2 separate regions of the Homo sapiens genome follow, and region 1 is linked to region 2. Evidence: fine-mapped expression QTL. A gene starts in region 2. The other region holds a variant in brackets. All regions are shown on one strand. Distances are between the middles of the regions.

Region 1 (8,000 bases), 49 kb before region 2:
GGGCAGCAGGGCCACAGCAAGGCTCTGAGGTCCTGAGTCTTCTCCGTCCGTGGACTTAAACTCTGCGTGTTTACAGCTGTTCTGTGCCTGGGTCCAGGCTCTAGTGAGAAATAAACTGCCTTCAGAGCCAGGTGACAGCAAAAGAAATTTTATTCCCATTTTCTAGGGGACAGAAACAGAGCCCAGTGGTGCCTAGCATGTTTCTGGCAAGGGTAGTGAAAAGACCACTTCCTTTTGGGGGAAGTCTTTCAATTAAGAAAAACACACGCAACTCCTGGGGGTGGCTCCACCTGTACCCAGGACAGGGCCTGCCACTCCAGGGGCTCCCAGGCTGGATTTTCCACCAGAGCAGTCTTGGGGGCAGGAGCCTGTTAGAAATGCAGATCCCCAGGGACCTGCAGCGGTCTGGGCAGTACCTCCAACACAGCTGCTTAAGGGGAGGCAGTCCGGCCCTCATCTGGGAGCGCCGTGCTGACGCTGACTGCACGCTAGGGCTCTCGGGGTTGGGTGGACAGGGTTTCTCCGAGAGATGGGCTCCCAGCAGCCAGAGCACACTGTGGGTGTCAAGCTGCTGGTGGGAAGCAGGCTGTTCCCTGAGACCATGACAGGGTGAAGGTGGGAATCACCAGCCCCCACACTCACCAAGAAATGCTTTTGCTACATGCTGGGGCTTTTTTCTTTTTTTGAGAGGGAGTCTCACTCCGTCGCCCAGGCTGGAGTACAGTGGTGAGATCTCGGCTCACTGCAACCTCTGCCTCCCCGGTTCAAGCGATTCTCATGCCTCAGCCTCCTGAGTAGCTGGCATTACAGGCACACACCACCATGCCCAGCTAATTTTTGTATTTTTAGTAGAGATGGGGTTTTGCCATGTTGGCCAGGCTGGTCTCGAACTCTTGACCTCAAGTGATCCACCCACCTTGGCCTCCCAAAGTGCTGGGATAATAGGCATGAGCCACCATGCCCGGCCATGCTGGGGCTTTTCTAAGAACACAAGCACACCGGAGGGTAAGACAAGATTCTGGAGAGGCACAGACCCAGAAAGCCAGGGGCACACAGGAGCCTCGCCAGCGAGGGCGGCACAGGCCATCCATGCGGACCCTCAAATCTCATGTGAAGGCTGCATCAAGGTCAGTGCCAAGAGGAAGCAGAGCAAAGCATGTGACCACCTCTCTGAAGCCATCTTTGTGGACAAATGATGTAGGAACTCAAAAAAATGCAGGCTTGGCTAGGCGAAGTGGCTCATGCCTGCAATCCAAGCACTTTGGGAGGATCGCTTGAGCCCAGGAGTTTGAGACCAGTCTGGACAACATAGCAAGACCTTGTCTCTACAAAAAATAAAAAAATTAGCTGGGCATGGTGGCACATGCCTATAGTTCCTGCTACCTGGGAGGCTGAGGTAGAAGGATCCCTTAAGCCCAGGAGTTCGAGGCTGCAATGAGTTATGATTGCACCACTGCCCTCAAGCTTGGGCAACAGAGACCAACCCTGTCTCAATTAAAAAAAAAAAAAAAAAAGCAACTAACCCCAAACCCAGATCTCTAAAGTATTGGGTGTGGACTAGAGCTCTGGACGGCCTAAAGGAAAGGAATGTGCCGGTTCACAGGGACCCGCGGCTAAGCTCAAGGGTAAAATACAGCTTTACAAAGCATCTTTAGGCTGTTCCTTCCCAAACGTGCTTAGAAGGGAACAGGGAAAGGCGGGTGTGTTTTCTCACTGAGGTTCTTCTAGTGGCTGGAATCTGATAGAGTACCAAGTTGTAGGGATATGGATATATTTTCCCTTTGGCACTCCATAAAGCTAAATGTTGGGCTGAAAAAAGGATGCAGCCTATAAACAAGTATTTTTCCTGAAACCAACTGCATGAGGAAACGCTGCGCTCCCCCTCAGGGAGCAGTTTCTGAAGCCAGCTGAGCACAGCTGGCACTGGCCAGAGGGAGCCCTCCACCCTCCCACCACGTATGCCCACCTGCAAACCTGGGTTCTGAGTCCCCATGCAGGGGACAGACCTGAAAATTCCAGTTTGTGTCCTTTCAGGTCATCGACAGGAATGACAGCCTGGCAAGCTGCAGTGACTGCACACAGCTACCCTGTGAGCTCCACTTGTGTGGGTGCAGGTGGGCGACAGGAGTGTGTGACACAGACAGGCACTCCACCAGGAGGAAACCCACAGCAGACGTCAACCATCGCTTTATTAAGGCTGCGAGTCGGGGGGCTGAGTCATGCACTCCACAGACACCCCCACTGCTCCCAAGGTCCACTTTTGGATGACCCTGAAGGCAGAGACTCCTGAGATCTGGGCCACAATCTAGGGTGAGCCACCCACAGTGCCCTGCTGGACAGGGGGGTATGCGGACTGCACGGGGGGGCCCTCAGCAGGGGTCTTCCTGCCTAGGGTGGGGCTGGCTCCAGTGGGTCCTGGGCTCAGGCAGGGGGGGTGGCAGGGAGGCAGGGACATCCCCCCGCCCTCTGGCCTATGGCTTTGTTGCCCTATTGCCACCAGCGCAGAAGCAATGTGCTATACCGTGAGGTGATGAAGAAGAGCCCCGGGAGGGAGCAGGCAGCTCTGTGCCTGGGGCCTGGCCAGACCTCAGGGGTGCTGTGGCCCTGCTCCTGTTCCCCCTCAGCTCCTCCCAGCAATGGGTCTCCTCCAGTGGAGGTCAGTCACTCAGAAGTGGACCCGCAGCACGTCTTGGCTAGCAACCGGCCGCTGGCAGGCTGTGCACGTCATGGGCAGGGAGCGTTGCTTCTCACCCAGGCAGGGTCGGCACAGGAGGTGGCCGCAGGGCAGCTGGTACACCGGCTCCTTTTTGAAGTAGGGAGAAAATACTCTTTTGCAGGAGGCACATTCGGGGCCCAGGATGCTCCCAGGCTGCTCTGGTAAATCAGGAAGGAAAACAGGCCAGGGTTAGGAAAGCTGCTCCATGGTCCAGGCTGCTCTGAGGGGCAGAGCCTTCCCACCGTGCTGCTGCAGCATCTGGCTTCATCCCTCCCGAGTCCATCCCAGTCTGATCAGGTAGGGGAGTGGAAGCGGGAGAGGGAGCCTGGGAACCCGGGAGGCCTCTTCTCTATCATCTTTGACCAAATCTCAGTGCCTCTACGAATGCTTGAGAAGAGCTGGCTTCTGAGGGCAGCAGGCAGGACTGGGCCCTTCCTCCTGGTCTCCCAGCAAGGTTTACTTTCCCC[T/C]GCGATAGGTGGCCAAGGCTGGAGCAAGGCACAGCTCACTCTGACAAGATAAACTGCAAGAAATGTGAGAGGCGACAAGAGAAGGAAAAGGCAGGTCAGTGGGGTGGCTCAAGCCTGTAATCCCAGCATTTTGGGAGGTTGAGACAGGAGGATCACTTGAAGCCAGGAGTTCGAGACCAGCCTGGGCAACATAGTGAGATACTGTCTCTACAAAAAAGAAAAAAAAAAAAAAAGGAAAAGCAGCACATGGTCCAGTGCACCAAGGTTGGGGAAGTGTGAGAAGGGAGGTCAGCAGAGACAAGGCTGAGGCCTGCAGTGCACCTGCCACTGGGGCCTAGCTCCTGCTCCCTTCAGCCCTGCAGCCTGCAGCCCCCTCACTGCTACTGGCAGCCCTGCTCCTGACTCCTCAGTCCCCCTCCTGTGCTGCCCTGGCCCTCTCGGCAGGCTCTCCCTTCTTCCGCAACTCCTTCAGGGCATCCTTGAATGAGGGTCACAGTGAGCAGCTCTGGCCATGCCCCACCAGGCTGCACCCACGGCTCTTCCTTTCCTCATGGCCCCTCTGGAGAGTGACAGGGGATGGGCTTGCCTGTCCTCCTTGTGGTCCATGTCTCCATTCCTAGCCACTACTCTCTGGAGGACCCCAAAGGAACCTCAAACCAATTTGCTTCAGAATTGTTTCTTAACCCCCCTTCTCTCTGTCCATTTCATCACCATAATCCAGGCCGCTCGACACATCTCTTCCTAACTATTCACCTGCTCCAGGCTTGTCTTCTCAATCTGTCCTCAAAGCTGCCTCCAATGACCCACCTATGTAACTTGACCACCCCATAACTCTGCTTTCTACCTCTTAGGAGCTTCCCAACTTTCGGGACAGTCAAGACTCCCTGCACGGCCCACCCAGCCTCCTCACCTCTCTTCACACCAGTCTCAACTTTTAGAGTCCAGCAGCTTCCAATCACTTCTTTGCACACTCTGCGCTGCTGGCCTCCTCACTTTGTGCTTGCTGTTCCCTCTGCCTAGAATGCCCTTATCTGGAGACCTGGCTTAGACCACACCCATTCCATGACGCCACCCCGGATTGCCCCTTTCCTGTGCTTTCAGAGCCCACCAGCCCTTCTCAGCCTCCAAGGTAGGATGCCTACTTCCTCCCCAGGCTTTGCAGGTCCTGAGGGTCAGGACTATGTCCATGTTTCTCATCCGGCCTCAGGACCTGGCGCAGCACCTCACAGGGCAAGTGCTCCATCCACATGTGATGAATGGACCTGCCATCTACACTCGGGCACCAGGCACCAAAGAAGGGAGGGCAGGGGTGCCCTACACGGGGAGCAGGAACTGAAGTGTTCCTGCCTCCGCATCCCTGAGAACTGTAGCCAGGAAAGAGTGGCCTGGCTGCGGGTGTTTTCTTTGGGCCAAACATTAAGCAACATAAAAGTACCGGGTGCCTCTCCTGTGCACACAAGCCAAAAATTCCCCAGTGAGTGGAAAGTTGAACCTCTACAGGGAAGGGAAGGAGGGAGGAATGAAGGTGGGGAGGGAGGGGGGAAAGAAGGGAGGGGAGGAAGCAGGAGGAAAGAGCCACTGACTGCTTTTCAGTGGTGCCCCTTTCATGCAGGCTCTGCCAGAGGCTTCAGAGATCTGCCTGACCCACAGTGCATGATGAGAATTTATTTTCCATCAGTTTTAAAAAGCACACCTGGCACAACACCACAGAAGCATGCAAGGGCCCCAATTGCCCCCAGCACTGACCAGAAGTCCCATTAAAAGATCTCAGAGGCCCAGAGCCCCAGGGGCAGTTTCAGTGACAGAAAAAAAAAAAAAAAAATCATCAAGGAAAAGACAATTATTGTGCCCTGGGCAGGATGGAAACCCAAGTATATAACTGCAAACTGAGGTGACAGAGAGGATAAAAAAGAGGGCTTGCTTTGAAAAGGGTGGGCTAACATGGCCTCCTGTAGGAAGAGCTGTGAGAATAAAAAGGGGCCAGCCACACAGAATGAAAGGAGAGCAAGCACAAAGAACAGCCTATCCGTTAAAGAAAAAGACACAGTGGTCGGGCACGGTGGCTCACACCTGTAATCCCAGTGTAATCCCAGCACTCTGGGAGGCCGAGGTGGGTGGATCACCTGAGGTCAGGAGTTCGAGACCAGCCTGACCAACATAGCGAAACCCCGTTTCTAACTAAAAATACAAAAATTAGCCGGGCGTGGTGGCGGGCGCCTGTAGCCCCAGCTACTCAGAAGGCTGAGACAGGAGGATTGCTTGAACCAGGGAGAAAGAGGTTGCAGTGAGCCAGGATTGTGCCACTGCACTCCAGCCTGGGCGACAGAGCGAGACTCCATCTCAAAAAGAAAAGAAAAAGACACAGTGAAGCTGGGTGCAGAGGCTCACACCTGTAATCCCAGCACTTTGGGAAGCTGAGGCAGGTAGATCACCTGAGGTCAGGAGTTCGAGACCAGCCTGGCCAACATGGCGAAACGCTGTCTCTACTAAATATACAAAAAAAAAAAAAAAAAATTAGCTGGGCTTGGTGGCGTTTGCCTGTAATCCCAGCTACTAGTGGGGGCTGAGACAGGAAGATTGCTTGAACCCAGGAAGTGGAGGTTGCAGTGAGCCGAGATTGCGCCATTGTACTCTAGCCCGGGCAACAGAGCGAAACAGAGCAAGACTCTGTCTCAAAAAAAAAAAAAAAAAAAAGACACAGTGAGAGTGGGCTTCAGATAAGACTGCAGAGGAGGAGACATGGGGGCTCCAGCAGGCAGGACCTCAGAGGGAGTAGGAGTTGAGGTTTTATCCTAAGTTCAGGGGATGCCATGGTAGGATTTGAAGAAGTGGAGCATGGTGATGGGCTGACATGATAAAAAGATCCAACTGCTATGAGTATGATGAGCCACAGTAAGGCGAGGATGGGGGGATACCAGCAGGGGCTACTGCAGGAGTCTGGGAGTGAGGCAGTGGGAGCTGCAGCCAGGGGAGGGGCCACAGAAGGAGAGCAGGGGACTAACCTGAGGTCACCTTGGGGGAGGATGGACAGGACCTGATAATGAACAGAATGTCAGGATGGGGACACTGAAGGAACTCGAGAATGACTTCTGTGTTAGAAGCCTCACCACAAGACAGAAGATGCTGCCCTTACCCAGGTAGGATGATGGGGGCAGTGAGGGGGAAAAGCTCTGGAGGGCAGATGTGAGCAGTACAGAGTCTGAATGTTTCCTTTAGAGAGGATGCTGAGCCTGGCCATGATGGCTCATGCCTGTATTCCCAGCACTTTGGGAGGCCGAGGCAGATGGATCACCTGAGGTCAGGAGTTCAAAACCAGCCTGGCCAACATGGTGAAACCCCATCTCTACTAAAAATACAAAAATTAGCTGGGCGTGGTGGCGGGTGCCTGTAATCCCAGCTACTTGGGAGGCTGAGGCAGGAGAATCACTTGAACCTAGGAGGCGGAAGTTGCAGTGAGCTGAAATCGCGCCATCGCACTCCAGCTAGGGCAACAGGGGCAAGACTCCATCTTAAAAAAAGAAAAAAGAGAGAGGATGTTGAGTGCTGTCAGGGCGGCAGGATGAGTTCCAAGGAGAAGCAGGAGCTACAGGGGAACATGGACAGTTGCCGGAGATGTGAGTTTTCACTTGGGTAACAGAGAATATTGAGATTAGAGAGTCCAGGGCCAGAGCTGGTAGAGAAGGCAATTGGCAATGGAAACTGAAGAGGGACCACCGAAGATAGGAGAAAAGAAGCAAAACAGCCTAAAAGCCAAGAGAGAAGGCGTTTCGCACAGCAGGAGCTCCATCTCGTAAAAAATGCCTCCCGTTGCAATCAGTTTCTGTTGCTTTGTATCCTAATAGATTCTGGCATACAATGGGGGTCAAGGTTCATTTTAGGCAAAATTGGCCCATAAGCTGCCACTGCTCTTTCTAAGACACTGACGGAAGTGTTAATCTGAAGGGATGAGGACGACAAACCCAACCAAACCTCTCTTCACATTTACATAAAGTGCCCCGGATGTCAGACTGCAGACTGGCTAGATGAGAAAAAAATAACAAAAAAGGCCAGGCGCGGTGGCTCACTCCTGTAATCTCAGCGCTTTGCGAGGCCGAGGCGGGCGGATCACGAGGTCGGGAGTTCGAGACCAGCCTGGCAACATGGTGAAACCCCGTCTCTACTAAAAATACAAAAAATTAGCCGGGCATGGTGGCGGGCGCCTGTAATCCCAGCTACTCAGGAGGCTGAGGCAGGAGAATAGCTTGAATCCAGGAGGCGGAGGTTGCAGTGAGCTGAGACTGTGCCACTGCACTCCAGCCTGGGCAACAGGGCGAGATGCAGTCTCAAATAAATAAATAAATAACAAACAAAAAAAAGAGAAACAAAAATCCTCAGGAGAAAATAATTAACATTAGATCTCACAAGGAAACACATCAGAGGGTGGCCAAGCCCTACATCCACAGAATTACTAAGGATTGACTAAAGAAAGCCTTTCTTGTGGGGAGTTTAAGTTCATAGGCAGCCCCTCAACTACCCCTGGAAAAGGCAAGAGAACAGGTTCTCTCCCAGGGTGGGTGTTGGAACTGACGGGGAGGCTGGCCAGGCAGGTCCACAGAGCCCCCAGGGACTCGGCCCAGCATCCAGAGACAGAAAACAGACCACCCATTCCAAGGCTCCAAGGAGATGGCGGGGCCCATGTTACCCGAGCCGGTGCCAGGCCTCCAGGAAGTGTTGCTCCCTCTTGTGCCAAGGTGCTGGAGCTGTCCCCTGGTCAGCCGTGCCGTGAAGGAGGGCATAGAGCCAAGGGTGGATGCCAAGGCAATTTCCAAGCTTTGTGA
Region 2 (11,724 bases):
AAGACCTGAAAGTTGGCAGTAGAGATATGGGATCCAGAAACTAGGGTTCAATACAGAGAAGCAAAGGGAAATCCCAGGAAAAAGGTGAAGGAAGATCCCAGGACAAGAGCTGTGAACAGACATAAAGAGCAACCAGCTCATGCTGGACGACATAGACAGTACCCAGGAGAGGAGAATCATACTTCTACCGGATAATCCGGGCATGAACAAGAGATAAGGATACAAAAAGCCATGCTAATAAAAACAGTAACAAAAATTATTAATGCCAGGGAAGACAAAAAAGTTATACAAGATAGAATATGTTACCACAGGCAGGATGCAATGGCCCATTCCTGTAATCATAGTACTCTGGGAGGCCAAAGTGAGAAGATCACTTGAGGCCGGGAGTTTGAGACCAGCCTGGGCAATGTAGTGAGACCCCCACCTCTACAAAATATTTAGAAATTAGCCAAGCCTGGTGGCACACACCTGTGGTCCTAGCTACTCAGGAGGTAGAAGTGGGAAGGTTGCTTGAGCCCAAAAAGTTAAGGCTGCAGTGAGCTGTGATCCTGCTATGGCAGGGTGACAGAGAGAGACCCTATCTCAAAAAATAAATAAATAAATAAAAAGAGTAAAGAAAATATTAGTATATCATACTCCCTATTCAGTTGAGAATAATACTAACATAATTTTATTAATATAAATCTTGATATTAGCCTAACCAAAAATTATGAGCAAACTATATTGGGAGGATAAAGTGAGTAAGAGGAGGAGTAGGGGGAGGTTGATGATACAAGAGACCTAGAGCCTCAAAGTCCATAATAAAGAAGTACAATTGGACAGGTGTGGTGGCTCACAACTGTAATCCCAATATTTTGGGAGGCTGAGGCAGGAGGATCACTTGAACCCAGGAGGCAGAGGTTGCAGTGAACCAAGATCGTGCCACTGCACTCCAGCCTGGGCGACAGAGCAAGACACAGTCTCAAAAAAAAAAAAAAAAAAAAGAAAAGAAAAGAAAAGAAAAAATAAATATAGTGATGGCCAGGATCAGTGAGTGGCTCACACCTGTAATCCCAGCACTTTGGGAAGCTGAGGTGGGCGGATTGCTTTAGGCCAGGAGTTCTAGACCAGCCTGGGTAACATGGTGAAACCCTGTCTCTACTAAAAATACAAAAAGTAGGCTGGGCACAGCGGCTCAAGTCTGTAATCCCAGCACTTTGGAAGGCTGAGGCAGGAGGATCACCTGAGGTCAGGAGTTTGAGACCAGCCTGGCCAACGTGGCGAAACCACGTCTCTCCTAAAAATACAAAAAATTAGCCAGGCATGGTGGCAGGCACCTGTAATCTCAGCTACTCAGAAGGCCGAGGCAGGAGAATCACTTGAACCCGCGAGGCAGAGGTTGTGGTGAGGCGAGGTCGCACCACTGCACTCCAGTCTGGGCAACAGAGCGAAACTCCATCTCAAAAAAAAAAAGTGGGTCGGGAGAGGAAACTATTATTTAGTGTTACAAGCTCTACTGAACTATTTGACTGTTTAAACCATGTACATGTACAATTTTGACAAAAATTAAATTAAAAAATCCATGTATTATGAAGATATTATGGTATTGTTCAAGATAATGAATGGAGAAAGTAGCTTAATAGATAAGGAAAATGTTGAAAAGTTATTTTTAGTGCAAGCACTTTCTACTACCTAAGAACTTCTTTAAAGATGTTCAATAACAGAAATGATAACAAAATAAGGAATCTTAGAGGCATGAAGAGCCAACCTACAAATGGTAAACAGTGGCTACTTACTCTTTTCACTATGCAACATTTACAGTAACTCTATAGAAACTGTATCTACATACACAGGTCTGAAACAGAGGACTTCAGAAGTTGGTCTTGAGTACTGTGGAGAAGGAAAGAAAAACAAGGAAGATACAGAAGCAGCAGAGAAGAACAGTAGGGAGAAAAGACACTGCAAAGAAGCAGCAGTCAGGATGACCAGATAGCGAAAACATACCTGAGAAGGTTAGTTCCTCCTTACTCAAAGACTCTCAGAAAATCCATAGGAAAGCTGGAAAGAGAACACTATGAGATGCTCAGTCAATTAACTTCTGACTCTTTTTTTTTTTTTTTTTTTTGAGACAGAGTCTTGCTCTGTTGCCCAGGCTGGAGTGCAGTGGCGTGATCTCAGCTCACTGCAACCTCTGCATCCCGGGTTTAAGTAATTCTCCTGCCTCAGCCTCCCAAGTAGCTGAGACTAAAGGCTCACGCCAACATGCCCACCTAATTTTTTTGTATTTTTTGGTAGAGACGGGGTTTTGCCATGTTGGTCAGGCTGGTCTCAAACTCCTGGCCTCAAGTGATCCACCTGCCTTGGCCTCCCAAAGTACTGAGTACAGGCAGGAGCCACCACGCCCGGCCTGACTCTTTCAATAAAGGTCAAAGATACCTGATATGATTTCACAAAACTCCTTTCCTAGTTTAAGTGCCCCAAGTATACCTTTCTCCCCTTTAGGGGTCCTAACGAAACAGAGTAGAGCCTCAGACACTCCTGGACCCTGTCAGTTCCAAAAGGCAATGCCCAAACCTCCCTGAATGATGTGATTTCACAGGACTGAAGAATCTTACCTTTCTCCCTTCCACATACCGGTCTGAGCAGAGCCGAATAGCTTCATTTTAAACTAGAGTCTAGAAGTTAGAGGAGGGGGGCCAGGCAGAGGAAGGAGCGATGCTAACTGTAGACTGAGTATAAGACACCTTAAACACATACAATTTACCACTTACCAGATCTGATCCCTCAATTCTAACACTTTTCCTTTCTATGTCCCAATAAAATTGCCACAAATAAATGAACACTCCAACCCTATTCTTGTCTCAGCAAATAATTTGTTGAGCAACCTTAAGAATTAAAAAGGCAAAAAAACTGGCTAGACAGGTGGCTCATGACCATAATCCCAGCACTTTGGAAGGCCGAGCAGGCAGATCACGTGAGGCCAGGAGTTCAAGACCAGTCTGGGCTACATGGCGAGACCCTGTCTCTACCAAAAAAAAAGGGCAAAAAAACCGAACTTTCTCTAGGTGCTGAGGTATTCTGCTGAGAATCTACAAAACTTCAAAGCCCCTAGTGAGGGCTTAGAGACTGGCAGTAAGGACCTTAGCTGTTAATGTGGATGTTAACTGGGCTAGACTCTTCTGTGTTTCTGTTTCCACACGGGAGCAGGGCCTCAGAGAGGAGTCTACCAGTACTGCGAAGGTGAAGCACTAGTGCAAAGGTGTTTAGGTCAAGTTCAGTGTCACTCGCAGGTCTAAGCCAAACTAAAATTATTCAGTCTAGCAATCCATCCCTTCCTTTTTGTTCTAGACTCCATGCTGATAGGAGAAAAACAGCACATCACAAACATTTGTGAAACTTTTTCAGCTACACAGCCCTTCCGCTTCTCTTTTAAGACTCTGCTATTCCTCTATCAGAATGGCAAGAAGGATGTGGGTAGATATAGTATGACTAAGCCCTGTAGATGATTCTGTTAGAGCTACTGCTTTTAAAGGGTTTCATAAAACCCTGTCTTTAGAAAACCTCTCCATATAACAACAGGCAGTAGGCACTCATGTCCTCTCAGCCCATCTAAATGGGGCTTCTAGAGGAATTACAAAATCCAGGCAGGTAAAGAGAAGTAGCTGCATGCACACAGTCGTCATAAGAGAAAATTCCCAAATAAATGGTCCAAGTACCTATAACTGTTAGCTCAATAAACACTTGGTTTTATCTGCTTTTACAATTTGCAAGGCTGTATAGAGGCTGTATAGTACATACTTCAGACAAATAAAGAAGGAGTTTCAGAATTCTTTTGTTTTTTTTTTCAGACAGGGTCTCGCTCTGTTGTTCAGTCTGGAGGGCAGTGGTGCAATCTCCGCTCACTGCATCCTCGACCACTGCCCCCCACCTCTCACCCCGGCAACCTCCCGGGCGAGGATCGCTCAAGGATCTCAAACGATCCTCCCACCTCAGCCTCCTAAGTAGCTTGGACTACAAGCCCACCACCACGCCTGGCTACATTTTGTTTTTTTGTGTGTTTTTTTTGTTTTTTGTTTTTTTCGTAGAGACAGAGTTTCCCTATGTTGCCCCCAGGTTGGTCTCGAACTCCTGGGCTCAAGTAATCCTTCCACTTCGGCCTCCCAAAGTGCTGGGATTACAGGCATGAGCCACCGCACCTGACCTTAGAATTATTTTATATCAAAGTTGACTTATTCACATGATGAATGGCAAGGCCTTATTAGGGACTAAAAAAATAAACCAATGGATGGGGAAGAAAATCATACTGACTAATAAACATTAGACCTGCATAACTGCCAAAGGCCTCACTTTTTAAGTTATGTTATGCAGCACAGAGTCTTCAGATTTTATTTACTTATTTATTTATTTATTTATTCATTTATTTGAGACGGACTCTCGCTCTCTCGCCCAGGCTGGAGTGCAGTGGCGCGATCTCGGCTCACTGCACACTCCGCCTCCCGGGGTTCACGCCACGCTCCTGCCTCAGCCTCCAGAGTAGCTGGGACTACAGGCGCCCGCCACCACGCCCAGCTATTTTTTTGTATTTTTAGTAGAGACGGGGTTTCACCATATTAGCCAAGATGGTCTCGATCTCCTGACCTCGTGATCCGCCCGCCTTGACCTCCCAAAGTGCTGGGATTACAGGCGTGAGCCACTGTGTCCGGCCCAGATTTTATTTTAGTCTACCAGGTAGTAGCAAACTATCCAAGGACTTGCCCAGGACCATTCAGGTCAGTGAGCTACAGAATCTAGTTCTGGAAAGGCAGCCATTCTTACTATTCACAAAGTGTAGAAAACGTGAATTCAGATTCCAGCAGCAACAAATGACTGGAGCACAAAACGCCAGCCACAGTTGGTGCTAACGCAGCTGGCTATCAGCTCCACAGGATGAAGCACTGTCCAAGGGTCTGATCAGTGAAGCATCACCCAAGACTGATGAACACAGCTGATATGAGGGGACCCAAAGTTCCCTGAGTCAAGACAGAAGAGCTGTGTCACGGTTTGCACAGAAAGAGAAAGAGCAACTATTCTTACCCACGGAAAGAAAAAGGGAGAAGGCCATCAATACTACCCTTAGGCTTGTGCAACGAGAAACTGCTAAAAATGGGGGGAAGGTATATATCCTATCATACTGATGTTTACCGAAGACTCCGCATCCCAAATGCTAAGCAACATACTGTAGGGCCTTGCTACTCAGTGTGTGGTCTGCGTGCCAGAGGCTTCAGCCTCGTCTGGAATCTAGTTAGGAACACAGTTATCTCAGAACCCACCCCAGTCCTACAGAATCAGAATCTCTAAGCGATTCGCAGGCACATCAAAGTGTGATGAGAGGCGCGGCAGAATATCTGACTACATTCTCTTAACAGCACCGTGAGACAAGTACTGTTACGATCTCCATTTCACAGAGGAAAAAAAATCAAGGGTCAGATAAGCCCCCTGCCAAAGATCACAAACTCAGGAGCGGCGAGAGTCACTGAAGTTCTCACCACAGCCAGGCCTGCGAGAGGCACTGGCAACCCAGGCCAAGAGCTGAACAAGGCCTCGATGCGCTCCAGCTCTGGGCCGGCCGGGAGGACAGGAGGCACAGGCCAAGGCCCAGGACGGTCGTGAACGCGGAAAGAGGCCGCCGCGACCTCCTCCCCGGCCGCCGCCACTCACCTGATCCTCCCGAAGGTGGGCGCCGCAACACCAAACCGGGGACGCCGCGGGCGGCGGCGACACAGATACTGGCTCCTCCGGCGACTCCGAGCCTCACAGCCCCACTTCCGGCCAACTGCCCGCTACTTCCGCCTGCTGCGCGAGTGACGGATGCGGCCGAGGCTCAAAAGACTCTGTCAGCGTTTCCCAAGGACATTTTCCACTGGAGGACGTTGTTGAGGAGGCAGGGGGAGTCTAGGACCTGCAGAGGGAAAACACCTTCCTGGATGGATCGCTCTGGAAGTCATTAAGCAGCTTAGTCCCGGCGCGGTGGCTCACGCCTGTAATCCCAGTACTTTGGGAGGCCAAGGCGGGCGGATCACCTGAGTTCAGGAGTTCGAGACCAGCCTGGCTAACGTGGTGAAACCCCCGTCTCTACTAAAAATACAAAAATTAGCCGGGCGTGGTGGCGCACGCCTATAATCCAGCTATTCAGGAAGCGGAAGCAGGAGAGTCGCTTGAACCCGGGAGGCGGAGGTTGCAGTGAGCCGATATCTCGCCACTGTACTCCAGTCTGGGCACCCCTGTACTCCAGCTCTGGGACACAGAGCGAGACTCCATCTAAAAAAAAAAAAAAAAAAAAAAAAGTAAGTAGCTTAGACACATGTTCAAATCTGAGGACCACCACTCAGGGTTTTATGGCCTTGGAGAAGTCACATAAATTCATTCTTGTTATATTATTATTATTATTTTCATAGAGACGGGGATGGCAGTGTCTTCCTATGTTGCCCAGGCTAGTCTCGAACTCCTGGGCTCATGCAATACTGCCGCCTCAGCCTCCGAAAGTACTGGGATTACAGGTATGAGCCATCGCACCCGGCCCACATAAATTCTCTAAGCCTGTACAGTGAGAAAAACAATACATTTTTTTTTTTTTTGAGACAAAGTCTTGCCCCATTGCCCAGGCTGGGGTGCAATGGTGCAATCATGGCTCACTGCAGCCTCAACCTCCTGGGTTCAAGTGATCCTCCTGCCTCAGCCTCCTGAGTAGCTAAGACCACAGGCATGCACCACCACACCTGTCTAATTTTAACAATGCATTGGTCGGGTGTGGTGGCTCACACCTGTAATCCCCGGTGTTGGAGACCGGCCTGGCCAACATGGTGAAACCTCGTCTCTACTAAAAATACAAAAAAAAATTAGCGGGGCATGGTGGCGTGCACCTGTAACCCCAGCTACTTGGGAGGCTAAGGCAGGAGAATCACTTGAACGCAGGAGGTAGAGGTTGCAGTGAGCCGAGATTGCACCACTGCACTCCAGCCGGGGCAACAGTGAGACTCCATCTTTTTTTTTTTTTAATGCATTTATAATAGAGATGTATCTGTAAAGTGCTCTCAGGAAAAGAGCTAGTGACATGATGGATAGATGAGCCTGCTGAGAGAAATGGATGTGGAGCTGGGGCTTAGCGAGGCCAGAGCTATGGAGCATGAGCCAGGGTGATTCTCCACCACCCTAAGAAGGAGGGCTGGGTCCTACTGGGTACATATATTGACACAGCTGTCAGTATAGGTACCTAGACAAGAAAGAGACTCTACTAAACCTCTACCTATCAGAAAGTCCTGGCCCCAGGCTGCCATTCCTGAGGGCACTTGAGATCTGCTGATCAGGGTCTTCATATCTTGTCAATGCCTTGGCTCTAAGGGGTGTGAAGGAGAGCTGAGAAATCATGCTCCCTCCAGGGCCTATCTTGTAGGGAAGACAAAATCAATGTAGGAAGAACACGTCCCTGCCAGGAGGGGCAAGCCTGACATCCCAACTCCTGAGCTCTGGAGACAGCGCTGTTTGAATATCTGGAGCCCCAGACCACAGACACCACTGCTTAGGGAGGGTTCTCTCCCTCAGGCCAGACCAGGGCAAACACTATTCATTGTTATGACTCTGTCCTTGCCAGTAGAACCCAGAGAAAGCAGAGAGCCTGCCCCCAAGGAATGAACCATGTTTGTTCCTAGGCAGCCATGACAATCCTGTTTCTCTTTGTAATACTCAAATTCCCATTCTCCCTTGAAGTGGGAGGAGCATGTGGCTCAGTTCTGGCCAACAGGACTTAAAGGGAAGGGTCCTGGGAGGGCTCTGGGAAAGCTTTTACTTTTCATGATAAAGTAGGGCCGCCTCAATGTCTTCATGGAGCTGTGGCAGCCACTTTGTGGTAAGGAGGGAACAACATGCCAAGGATGGAACAGTGGGAGGATGAAAATCTAGGTCCCCGAGGATCCAACAACCATGACACCACCTCCGGATTTCTTGTCAGGTTGGGGAAAAATAAACCACTCTTTGAGGTCCTTTGATTACTTACAGCAGAGTGCATTCTTGATTGTGTGCTTTGAGAGGATGACAGAGGAACTGTTGTAAAGGGAAGCTCTCTGCTGTGCAGCACGCTTGGGTCCCTTTTGCCTTTGGGGCTTCGCCATTAATTGCAAACCTGTTCCCAGTCTTCACTTCTATCCATTCAGCCCGCAAACATCTACCAGTTGCTGTAAGGTGGCTTAGGCGACTGCAGGCTGCATCTAGCTGTCCTGCGTCACCTGTTTTCTGGCTAGCAGCTTAGTGTCCAGATTCTGAGCTGGAGCCAGCTTTTAACCCCTTTGGCAACAGTCTGAGCTGAAGAGAAAGCCCCACTGGGCATATACATGGCACCACGACTCTTCCCGGGCAACGTGGCAGAACTTGGGCTTTGGGCCAACCTCCTAGCACGGCCCAGTGAGCACCTCCAGTCTCATGCCTCCTCTGGGAAATCTGTTTACTCCAGCTTTGCCCCCATCCCCCACCCGGGCCTCACCTCCCGCACCTGCAAAGACACAAGCAGGCCAAAGAATACCACTCAAGAGGCTTTTTCCGTTTTATTTCTTTGGGAAAGGAAAACAAAAAGTCTTTCCATCACATATGGTAGAGATATATATTTATATATATTTATATATAATTTCTTTTGTGGTTGGACGTCCCAAAGCTGAGTCTGTTCATATTTTTTTCTATTTTTTTCTTACTAATGCCTTCTCTTCTCCCTGCCCCTGTGGCCTAGGCCCAGGTTCTAGGGCAGGTACAGTGAGGGGTGAATGGAATGGGCAGTGGTCGCCAGGATGGCCTCCCACCCAGCTCAGAGACCTGGTGAGGACCACCCAGAAGGGCTGTGCAGAGGGTTAGAGGCCACACAGAGGGGCACTCATGTTTTTGTGGGGGATGCACAGCTCATTAAACAGTCACCAGTCATGGGAGGAGGCTGGTCAGGGGCTAGGGGACTTGCTCACAGTAGTTGCCAGCTCTCTCCACCTTGCCCCCCAAAACTCAGTCTTGGGGGTGGGAGGAAGAGAGTGAAAAAGAGAGAGATATAAGGGCTGAGGGCCAAGCCTCCTCCAATTTTTATTGCTGGTGAATTAGAAATTTGCTTTTCCCTTCCTGTCTTGGGGAGATAGACTCTGAGAGGGCCCCAAGAGAAGCAGCTGACATTGGCTGACCTAACCCCTCATGCCAGGCCTACCCTGGGCAGGTGCTGAGCCACCTCAGGGCGCCAGGAACCTCTCAGGTCAGCCTTGTTCTTCAAGGGCAATCACATCCAACTCTCCCCCCGCCCCCAAAACAAGGGCCTCCGGCTCAGACTTGGGCCAGTGGAGCTGGGAAGTGGGCAGTGCACCAAAGGTCAAGCGGAATTTTCTATTGGAAGAAAAGGTGAGACTTTGGGGAAGAGACTGCCTAGGAAGATGATGTGCTGAGCATGAAAGCAGAAAGAGGCTGGGGGAATAGAGTGCGGGAAGACATCGCAGACACTCGTCTGACCTCAGAAACTGGGCGAGGAGAGTGCCTGAGAGGCAGGTAGCACTTAATAGCTGTGTTAGAGCCGGACAGTGGTCCTGGGTGTGGGGTCAGCCAAGCAGATGGGGCTGTTGCCCTGCGGGATCCTGGCCAGAAGGGTGAGGGTAGAGCCGAGAAGCCGTCAGGCAACGCTTCCCAAGAACAGGAGGACAGATCTTCCCTGGGTGCTGGACTTCCAGCCCCAGTCCTCCCCTCCCGCAACACACACACAGGGACACACACTCACAACCAGGCCAGGCTCTGAGGCCTGAGTCCAAGAGATCTTGTTGGGGGAGGGGCTGGGCAGGTAGCCCTCTCAGCCAAAGGCAGGCCATCTGCTCCCACTTGTCCTGCCAATCTGCCCAGGGAGGGAGAGCACTGTAGGAGGGAGAGAGGTCTGGAGCCCAGGCTCTGTCAGTTTCAGCAAACCTGGTGCAGGCCCCCTCAGGCTCCATGGCCTAGGAGGTGAGCACAGAGAGCATCACTAGACACAGGGTGGCCAACAGTAGCAGCCCAGGCCTCCAGAAGGACTGGGGCACCTTATGGCACTGCACGTCTGCTGCCTCCATCTCCAACAAGGGGGTGCCGAGAAAGGGAGCATGACTCCCCCACCACCTAGGATTGCCCCCACTCACCCTGCCCTCCTCCTATTCCCTCCTTTTAGGGGGGTCCAAGTGGGCTGCCACGGGGGCAGTGCTGGAGCTAGGAGGGCAGGTGGGGAGGGAGGAACCTGGTCACAGCTGCTTAGAGAACCTCTTTGGTCTGGGGTTATGGGGTCTATGGGGAAGAGAGATGGAGGGGAGGGGACACTGGGGACTCTGGCCTTTTGACAGGACATGTGTCAAAATGCCGAGTGCCCAGGTCGATCAGATTTCTGTGGACTCAATGCGCTCGAGGCGGGAGGGGGTCCAGGCCTTCTTCTCCTCGCCATGCTGGGGAGTGGGCGTGCTTGCACCCCCTGCGGCCCCGCGCTCCCGCAGCCTGCGCTCCAGCTGCTGGTTGCGCTGGTACATCTCCACGTAGCTCAGCTGCAGCTGCTTCTGGTACTCGATCACCTTCTCCTTCTCCTCCAGCCACACGCGGCGCTCCTCGGCGAAGCTGGCACCCTGGCGCTCCCGGGCCCGCCGCTCAGCCGCCAGCTCGGCCTGCAGCCGCCCCACCTCCCGCCGCAGGGCCCGCGTCCCGCTCTCCCCGCCAGCCTCCGCCTCCCCGTCCACGGAAACCAAGGAGGCGGCAGCGGCCACCCCGGCCTGACGGCGCATCTTAGCCTCGTCGCTCTCGCAGGTGGCCAGAGCATCCTGTGGCTCGGCCGGGTCCACGGGGGTCAGCGCCGGCTTGAGGCAGGCGGCAGGCAGCTCGCCTTCGCCCAGCTCCAGGCTGGCCTGCTTGCTGCTGAAGGAGTCCCGCAGGCTGAGCAGCTGCTCCTCCTTCTCCCGCAGCGAAGCCCGGCCCTCCCGCAGCTGCGAGCGCAGTCCCACGATCTCACTCAACTTCTGCGACACATCCGCCTGCGAGTCCTTCAGCTGCTGCTTCAGGAGGGAGATCTCGCCAGCCTTCTGGCACACCTGGGCAGGAACAGGTGAGAGGAGAAGCCAGGTAAAGGCAGAGCTCTGCTCACCCCAACCCAGCTACCAGATCTGGAGCCAGGGGCACCAAGCTTCCCGGGGCTGCAGGCTCAGCCCCTCATCAGCAGCGACGCACCCGATTCCCTGCCTGGACTCAAGATGGACATGTCTCACCCAGCGGATGGCCTCGGGTCCTCACAGACACTCCCAATTGATTTTTGTCCCCCCTGCTCCTTTCATCCCCCCCCCCATCCCACCGTTATGATAGTGAGGGGCAACTGCTCTGGGGTTTCCCAGAGGGACAGAAGGGAGGCAGAGGGGAGGCCCAGATCCCCAGCCCGCACCTCCCACTTAGTTTCCTCTATCCGGGGCAGGAAGTCGGCCTGCTCCTTCTGGCAGGCGGCCACCTTGTCCTCCAGCTCTTCCCGCTGCCGCATCAGCCGGGCCGCCTCCTCCTGCAGCTGCTTCTTGTCCTGCTGCAGCCGCAACACCTGCAGCTGTAGGCCCTGCTGGGCGCGCTGGGCACGTCGGGCCACCTGCTGTAGCTTCCCGCTGCAGCCCTGCCGCAGCTCGGCCAGCTCCCGCTCCCACGCCTTCTGCCGCTCCTCCAGTACCTGGGCCACAGCCGCCTCGCTCTGCTCCAGGCTGCGCCGCAGAGCTG

Alleles and levels. Positions count from the first base shown, and alleles are read on the strand shown. Sizes are in standard deviations (SD) of each study's normalised expression.
For the expression in tibial nerve of the gene that starts at base 5,776 in region 2, C is the high allele of the variant in region 1 and T is the other (small effect, 0.25 SD a copy in GTEx).

Evidence for each region.
Region 1: its variant is fine-mapped to the expression of FASTKD5 in tibial nerve (GTEx, PIP 0.94).

The regions. Positions count from the first base shown.
Region 1 is chr20:3,107,441-3,115,440 of GRCh38, forward strand. UBOX5 (U-box domain containing 5) reads right to left here. Exons shown (of 5, transcript NM_014948.4): 4 at 7,865-8,000; 5 at 133-2,874. The coding sequence ends at 2,666. It overlaps UBOX5-AS1 (UBOX5 antisense RNA 1), which reads left to right. Exons shown (of 7, transcript NR_038395.1): 1 at 1-131; 2 at 2,035-2,310; 3 at 2,838-3,013; 4 at 3,192-3,277; 5 at 4,204-4,312. Among named protein-coding and RNA genes, the nearest start is that of UBOX5-AS1, 4.5 kb to the left of the region's middle. The variant T/C (reference allele first, on the strand shown) is at 3,184.
Region 2 is chr20:3,154,090-3,165,813 of GRCh38, forward strand. FASTKD5 (FAST kinase domains 5) reads right to left here and starts at 5,776. Exons shown (of 2, transcript NM_021826.5): 1 at 5,677-5,776. UBOX5 (U-box domain containing 5) reads right to left here and starts at 5,776. Exons shown (of 5, transcript NM_014948.4): 1 at 5,677-5,776. It overlaps LZTS3 (leucine zipper tumor suppressor family member 3), which reads right to left. Exons shown (of 5, transcript NM_001365618.1): 4 at 11,408-11,724; 5 at 8,528-11,063. The coding sequence ends at 10,365.